Linked DNA regions of Homo sapiens. The protein of the gene in region 2 purifies or fractionates together with the protein of the main gene of each other region. This does not show direct contact. Each region holds a gene or a part of one and is shown on either strand. Other genes may lie near its edges.

Region 1 (3,753 bases), on a different chromosome or scaffold from region 2:
TACTGTTGAAATCACAGTGAAATATGTTCTGATTGGGTCACATTTCAAATGTTAGGCAGTTTTCAACTGTGCATATTGATTCAGAAAATGGGCCCGGCCTTTGATATTTGACTAAGTTTCCCTATTCTGCAATAATGTCATAGTGGGGCATTGAGCATTTGCAATCTGAAGAAACACCACTTGAAATAGAAAGTTATGGGGGTTATCACCTGTCAACATTTATGTCAGCATTTGCCCTTCTGATTTTGAACTGTTACGGTGTATATAATGTATGTAATAATAATGCTTTTTTTTTTGAGACAGGGTCTGACTCTGTAACACAGGCTGGAGTACAGTGGTGAGACCTCGGCTCACTGCAGCCTCTGCCTCTGGGCTCAAGCTATCCTCCCACCTCATAGCCTCCCGAGTAGCTGGGACTACAGGCACAGGCCACCACGTCCAGCTATTTTTGTTTTCTTGGTAGAGATGGGGTTTCACCATGTTGGCCAGGCTGATCTCAAACTCCTGACCTCAAGTGATCTGCCCACCTCAGCCTCTCAAAGTGCTAGGATTACAGGCGTGAGCCACCACACCTGGCCTGCAAATATAATTTTAAGAGCTGTTTTTGTTTAATAATATGTAATAGTATTGGGTTTTGTGTACATTTTAACGTATTTGCTCTAATACATAAATATTTCAGAACTGCTTTATTTTCCTTTCTGTTTATACATCATGTTAACAAGATAAAATTGGGAAATTTTTCAATAAGTTCGCCGTAAGTCTTTGGTAGATACGACTGAAACAAATAGGAATGATAAAGATGCAAAGATTTAAGAACTTTCTATGCCTTATATTTTTCTTGATTACACATATGCAGAAAATTGTCCAATTTTTAGTAGGTGTGATTAGAGATTATATTGACTCTGTCCTTTGACAGCAACATTAGCATATCATACATTCAACAGGTATTTATTGAGCACCTAATATGTGTCAGACTTTTTGCAGGTGCTTTGGACTTATCAGTGACTAGAAGTTAAAATCCTTCTCTTCTTAGGTTTGTTTTTCCAGTAGGAGGAGAAAGACATTAAGCAATAAACATTTTTTTTTAATTGTGTAGTCTGCTAGAAGATAACAAATGCTGTGAAGAAAACAGATAATTAGAACAAAGGATGGAGGGCAGGCTTTGGTGTTAAATAGGGACCATATAGGTCTTTTATTAAGAAAGTGACATTTGAACCAAGGTGTGAAGGGAGGCAAAGGAATAGCCGTGTGGATATGGACGTTTAGGGGAAGAACATCCCTGGCAAAGACCCCAAGGTGAGAGTGTGCTTGATATCTTCAAGGAGCCAGTGGAACTGAAATGGGGTCATTAAGGGGTAGGGGAGGTCAGAGAACTAAATGCGGGTGTGGAAAAGGCTCATCTTTTATATATTTTGATGTCACTCAGGTTTTTTCTGTGCTTTTAAACATTCAGAATAAATTCCAATATTTTAATTGATAGTTGGAAGTTACTTAATAATGTATATGTTGTTACAGCCAGTGCATTTAGTGCATGATATTTTAAGTTTCCTCTTTGGAAACAGCATTCAGAGATTAATCATGGTCAGTTTAGAGCCCAGTAGGGTAGTCATCTCATGGCCTCATGGTGCAGTTACAAGTTCAGGTTACCCTAAGCATCTTTGTTTTTTTATAATATGGATTCTAAATAAATAAGTGTGGCTGTTTTTGAAAATTTGGAAATCACAGACTGTCCCAGACTTAAACTATAATTTGACTTAAAAATTTTCAACTTTGCGATGTTGCAAGTGCTGTATGTATACTTTGAGTACCCATACAACCGTTCTGTTTTTTCACTGTATTCAGTAAATTACATGAGATACTCAACATTCTATTATAAAATAGGTTTTGTGTTGGGTGATTTTGTCCAACCGTAGGTCTTACCTCTGTAAGTGTTTGGAGCACATCTAAGGTAGGCTAGGCTAAGCTGTGATGTTTGGTAGATTAGATGTATGAAATGCGTTTTTGGCTTAATTATATTTTCAGCTTACTATGGGTGTATCAGGCTGTAACCCCATAATAAGTTGAGGCACTCCTGCATCTGTGAAGTTTAAAGAAAAAAATTAAAACCAGCATAGTCCAACTACAGAAATGACTATGAGCCTTTTCACATTATTTATCCTGCAGTTTCATTCTGTCCCAGGTATATGACGTCTATATATTTTAACTTTACTTGAGATGTTATTATATATATTTTGTGTCTTTCTATGTATATATTTTGAGACAGAGTCTCACTCTGTCCCAGGCTGGAGTGCAGTGGCATGATCTTGGCTCACTGCAACCTCCGCCTCCCAGGTTCAAGCAATTCTCCTGCCTCAGCCTCCAGAGTAGCTGGGATTACAGTGCGCTACCACGCCTAATTTTTAGTATTTTTAGTAGAGACAGGGTTTCACCATGTTGGCCAGGCTGGTCTCAAACTCCTGACCTTGTAATCCACCGGCCTTGGCCTCCCAAAGTGCTGGAATTACAGGTGTGAGCCACTGTGCCCAGCCTATGTATTATTTTTTATCTCTTCACTTAAGATGATACTTTTAAGTGTTTCCCCACGTCATTAAAGATTCTCAATAAGCGTAATGTTTAATGGTTTCACAATATGGATGCAGCATCACTTATTCAGCAATTTTCTAATTGTTGTCATTTATGCTGTTTAGCTATTGTATTAAATAACTGAAGCTGCCCTGAAGATTTTTGTACATAAACATTTGTGATCATTTTTTATTGTTTCCTTAGAAAGCTGCCAGGAGAATTAACGAGATTAGAGACTAAGACATTTTAAGGCTCTTCATAGAAATTCCTCTCCAGGAAGGTTATGGTAATTTGCTAAACCACTAGTACTTCAAGAGTGCCAGTTGTACTGTGTATAAGTGTTGAGTTCTGTATTAATGTTCTTTTGCCTGTTTAAAATGGCTTTTAAGAAGACATTTTGTTTTCTCATTAAACATTTTTTTTTAGAAGTAATGGGATGTTAAAAGAGTACGGTTGCATTAAATGAAGCAGTGCAAAGGCCGGGCGTGGTGGCCCTTGCCTGTAATCCCAGCACTTTGGGAGGCCGAGGTGGGTGGATCATGAGGTCAAGAGATCGAGACCATCCTGGCCAACATGGTGAAACCCCGTCTCTACTAAAAATACAAAAATTAGCCAGGCATGGTGGTTTGCGCCTGTAGTCCCAGCTACCTAGGAGGCTGAGGCAGGAGAATCTCTTGAACCCGGGAGGTGGAGGTTGCAGTGAGTAGAGATCACACCACTGCACTCCAGCCTGGCGACAGAGCGAGACTATGTCTCAAAAATAAAAACAAAACAAAAAAAATGGGGCAGTACAAATTACAGGTCCAAAGCCTGAAAGATACTAGTTTCCTCTTGAGGCTGTAACAACTTGATACAACTTGGTGGCTTAAAACAACGAAAAATTATTATCTTATAATTCTGGAGGTCAAGTCCAAAATGGGTCACACTGTACTAAAATCAAGGTGTCCCAGGGCTGTGTTCTTCTCTGAGGGAAGATACATTTCCTTGCTTTCTTCAGTTTGTAGTGGCTACCTGCATTTCTTGGCTGAGGCTCCTTCCTCCATCTTCAAAACCAGCAGCATAGCATCTTCACAACTCATTTTCTGACCTCTTGTTTCTGTCATCATATCTCTCTCTTACTCTGACCTTCCTGTATCCCTCCTGTAAGAACCTTTGTAATTATAATTGGGCCTACCTGGATAATCCAGGGTA
Region 2 (3,753 bases):
AGTCACATGACCTTCTTGCAGGTTCTCAAAGCTCTTCCCCAACATGCCGTCCCCTCTGTCTGGTACACATTCCCCTACATACTTTACCTGCCAAACCTTACTCATTTTCCCAGATGCAACTTAAATGTCACTTCCTCCAAATCCCACTCTAAACTGAGTGCCCCAACTATTCAATCATAGCACTCTGCATTATCAGGTATGATGCCTTTGGATGCGAATAACTGAAAAACCAAACCTATCAATAGAGTTTTTAATATCAGGGAGGCTTTTGGGCATGGAGAATAACAATCACCACTATGTGTACTTTTGTTTAATGCTTACTTTATAAACTTTAAAATATATTAAACAGTATTTCTGGGAAATACTGTCTGATGCCATCCAATGCAGTATTCACTAACCACATGTGGCTATTGAACACTTGAAATATGACTAATCCAATTAAGGAATTTAATTAGGAATTTTTTTAATTTAAATTTTGGAAAAACTAAAGTGTGTGAACCTATTTTTTCAACTGCAAACTTTATAAAATCTAAACACAGATCCAATATTTCCAATTAAAATCAGGCAACTGAGATCAGTGTATGCATGTGAAATACATATCGAATTTTCAAGACTCAGTATAAAAAAATGTAAAAATTATCTGAATTTTTATATTGACTACATGTTGAAATGAGATTTTGGATATATTACGTTAAATAAAATATATTACTAAAATTAATTTCCTCTTTTTTTTTTTTTTGAGGTGGAGTCTCGATCGATCCCCAGTCTGGAGCGCAGTGGCTGATCTCGGCTCAGCGCAACCTCCGTCTCCCGGGTTCAAGCGAGTCTCCTGTTTCAGTCTCCCTGGTAGCTGGGATTACAGGCGCCCACCACCGCGCCGGGCTAATTTTTGTATTTTTAGTATAGACGGGTTTTCACCATGTTGGTCAGGCTGGTCTCGAACTCCTGACCTCAGATGATCCGCCCGCCTTGGCCTCCCAAAGTGCTGGGATTACAGGCGTGAGCCACCGCGCCTGGCCTCATCTGCAATTTTACTTAAATCACAAATATACTAGATCTTCTTACATGCTTCGAAGAACTAAAAAAAATAAGACATGAATTATCACAATGATTACCGAATTAATTGTAAATTTTTTTATTTAAACTAGTCACAAAGGTATCACAGGTATGACTTACACCTAACGGGGGCCAAAAGATGGGTTGCGAAACGAATGACTGAATTATCCCTAACAATCTTGGGAAGAAAACAGGATTGGCCAGGCCCATCCCGAGAGGTCCACGTCAGGCAGGGGCCCCGCCCACCGCGGGACCAAGCGGCTACGCCTTCCAAGTTTTCATTCGGGGCCGCGCCAGCGCTGAGGAGAGTCAGACGCCAGATGGTTCCGAAGGTCCTGCAGGCTCTCGGGGCACCCTACAGCCGACACGCCAACAAAAGCTTCGGAGCCGCCAACCCCAAAACGGAAACACCGGAGCCACAAGCTGAGCTCGCGTAGGGCACGCTCCCCCGGGAGTGCTTCCGGGACAGGGGGCGGGGTCGCCGGAAGTGGCCGTCCGCCGTCCGCTGCTCGTTGTTTAAGCGGCTGACGGGAAGGAGAAGCCAGAGCTCCAGCGGCGCCGCGGGGCGGCAGTCAAGACCAGAGCCGGAGCCGTCACTCACCTCTGGATTAGCCTGAAGCGGAGACTACCGGCTGCGGAGCGGCGGGGCGAGACACTTGCTCGCCTTTTGACCCCATCATGTCGCGGGGCTCCATCGAGATTCCCCTCCGGGACACTGACGAGGTAAGTGTCGTGTATGGAGGCGGGTGGGGGCCATGAACTTGTACGATCGCCCCCACCGACTTCGCTCGACTTCGTTTCTGAAGCGAGAGCATCCTCCTTCCCTAAGAGCCCTGATCGAAATACCTGGCCAAGGTCTGATCATCATCTTCTTCAGCCCCTGTGCCCTCTCAGGCTGGGGGCACCGCGTCTCTGCAGCCTCAGGGCCACTCGGAGAAGGAGTTCTTGAAAGTTCCTCTCCAGCCTGTTCGAATTTGACAGTGCGCTACTCTTTTCCTAACCAACCCACGGGAGCAGAGGTGTGAGAGTACCCGATAAACTGTAAAACACCTCGCAGATTACAGAGGTGGGCGCTGATGTTTCCGGGGTTTATATGCTTGCTGCTCAAACTCGAGATCTTTCCCTGGGAATATATAGGAGGTCGCCTCTTCTCCCTTAGAAACTCGAGTCTGTCATGGTGCGCTGTGTTCTCTACACCAACTCTCCTTCAACGAGATATCCCAAGATTTAGCCGCCCCTGTGTGCTGATAAAATTTAACCTCCTCTCGCTTACCTATGTCTCATTCATGGGTGGCCTGTGGCTTGTCTGAGTAAAGCTCTCAGCTTTGATGTTCAGTCTTCTTGTATATCTTTTATTTTTATTTTTTTTGTTTGAGATATAATATTGAGGTATAAAATTCAGTGGTTTTTAGTGTATTCGCAAAGTTGTATAGTCATTACCTCTAATTCCAGGACATTTTCCTATTATTATTTTTGTGCTTACAGTCAGGACTGTCTGTTACACGCAGGTGCCACCTCCATGATTAATGTGTGCAGTGGCATTCAACTTTGCATGGCTTGTAGGGTCATGCATCTCAAGGAGTCAGACCTATGGCATAATAGTCTCTAGGGTGCTTATCTGCACTTTACTTGGATTCTATGTTAAGTAGGATTTTGTTTTGTTATTTTTTAGTAAGCAGACCATTTCTAGTATTTTATAGTTCCAGTGATCTGGGGACAAGTAGCAGGGTTTGTTTGCTTCTCTGTGCTTTAACTTTATTATAGTATAACCTATTCGTCATGTGCTCCTTAAACATTAACATGGATTAGCTCAACCGTATTGAAAGTGAACACGTACTCTATGTATATGCATGTTGATTATATTCACGAAAAGCAGCAAAGATGAAATGTGAATTTTAAAGTGGAATAAGAGTTAAGACCTACCTTTTGTATTTTAGGTCATTGAACTTGACTTCGATCAGTTACCGGAGGGAGATGAAGTTATCAGTATTCTGAAACAGGAACACACACAACTGCACATATGGATTGCTTTGGCGGTCAGTATTCATGTAGCAAATATTTTTTATTTGTTGACTAGGAAAATATGTAGTTTCTGTTTTCAGATATAGTAATAGCCAGCTTGGCTGCATGGTAGATTAGTTATACCATGTGTATGGAAGTTAATTGTGTTAATAATTTATGGAACAATAAGGCCGTTTTCCTAAATGATATGCTGCTCTACTGGTGAATTAGTATATGTTGGTAAAGGCAAAATTCATTTAAGTAGTACTCTATATTGAATATTTTATTATTTAGTGCTTGTTCAGTGAAGGCTGGCTTATGGTTTATAGATAAGCTGAAAAGAAGCGAAGTGCTTCTGTGTGAACATTGCTGCTTAACATTGTTTCCTATAACAACAAAACACTTCCCTTAAAATATTCTAGAATGTGATTAGGTTCTGGGAAAATCACTTCACCCAAAATCACAAAAGTTCTTTTGGGTGAAGTTTATCTCAGACTTATGTTTTTTGTCCTATTTAGTCTCCTTCAATGTGAATCTTACTGGAGATTCTCAAGAAAATCCAATCAGAAACCCTAAAATTCTATATCCTCTACTTGCCAGCATCAGCTGCATAATGATGTTTTCTTTTTATAGGAATAGGTAATATAAATGTTACAGTCATTATTCCTAAGTAGATATGCCACATTGCTTTCATAC

The links. Proteins that work in one complex are often made in the same cells at the same time.
Region 1: the proteins of CTR9 (region 2) and IWS1 purify together in Homo sapiens (affinity purification with mass spectrometry; 2 studies listed by BioGRID and IntAct, with this or other methods). This does not show direct contact.

The regions. Positions count from the first base shown.
Region 1 is NC_000002.12:127,519,753-127,523,505, reverse strand, and holds part of IWS1 (protein IWS1 homolog), read left to right. Parts: intron 1-3,753.
Region 2 is NC_000011.10:10,749,679-10,753,431, forward strand, and holds the start of CTR9 (RNA polymerase-associated protein CTR9 homolog), read left to right. Parts: upstream 1-1,567; 5' UTR 1,568-1,734; coding exon 1,735-1,779; intron 1,780-2,993; coding exon 2,994-3,092; intron 3,093-3,753. UniProt on the Homo sapiens protein: Component of the PAF1 complex (PAF1C) which has multiple functions during transcription by RNA polymerase II and is implicated in regulation of development and maintenance of embryonic stem cell pluripotency.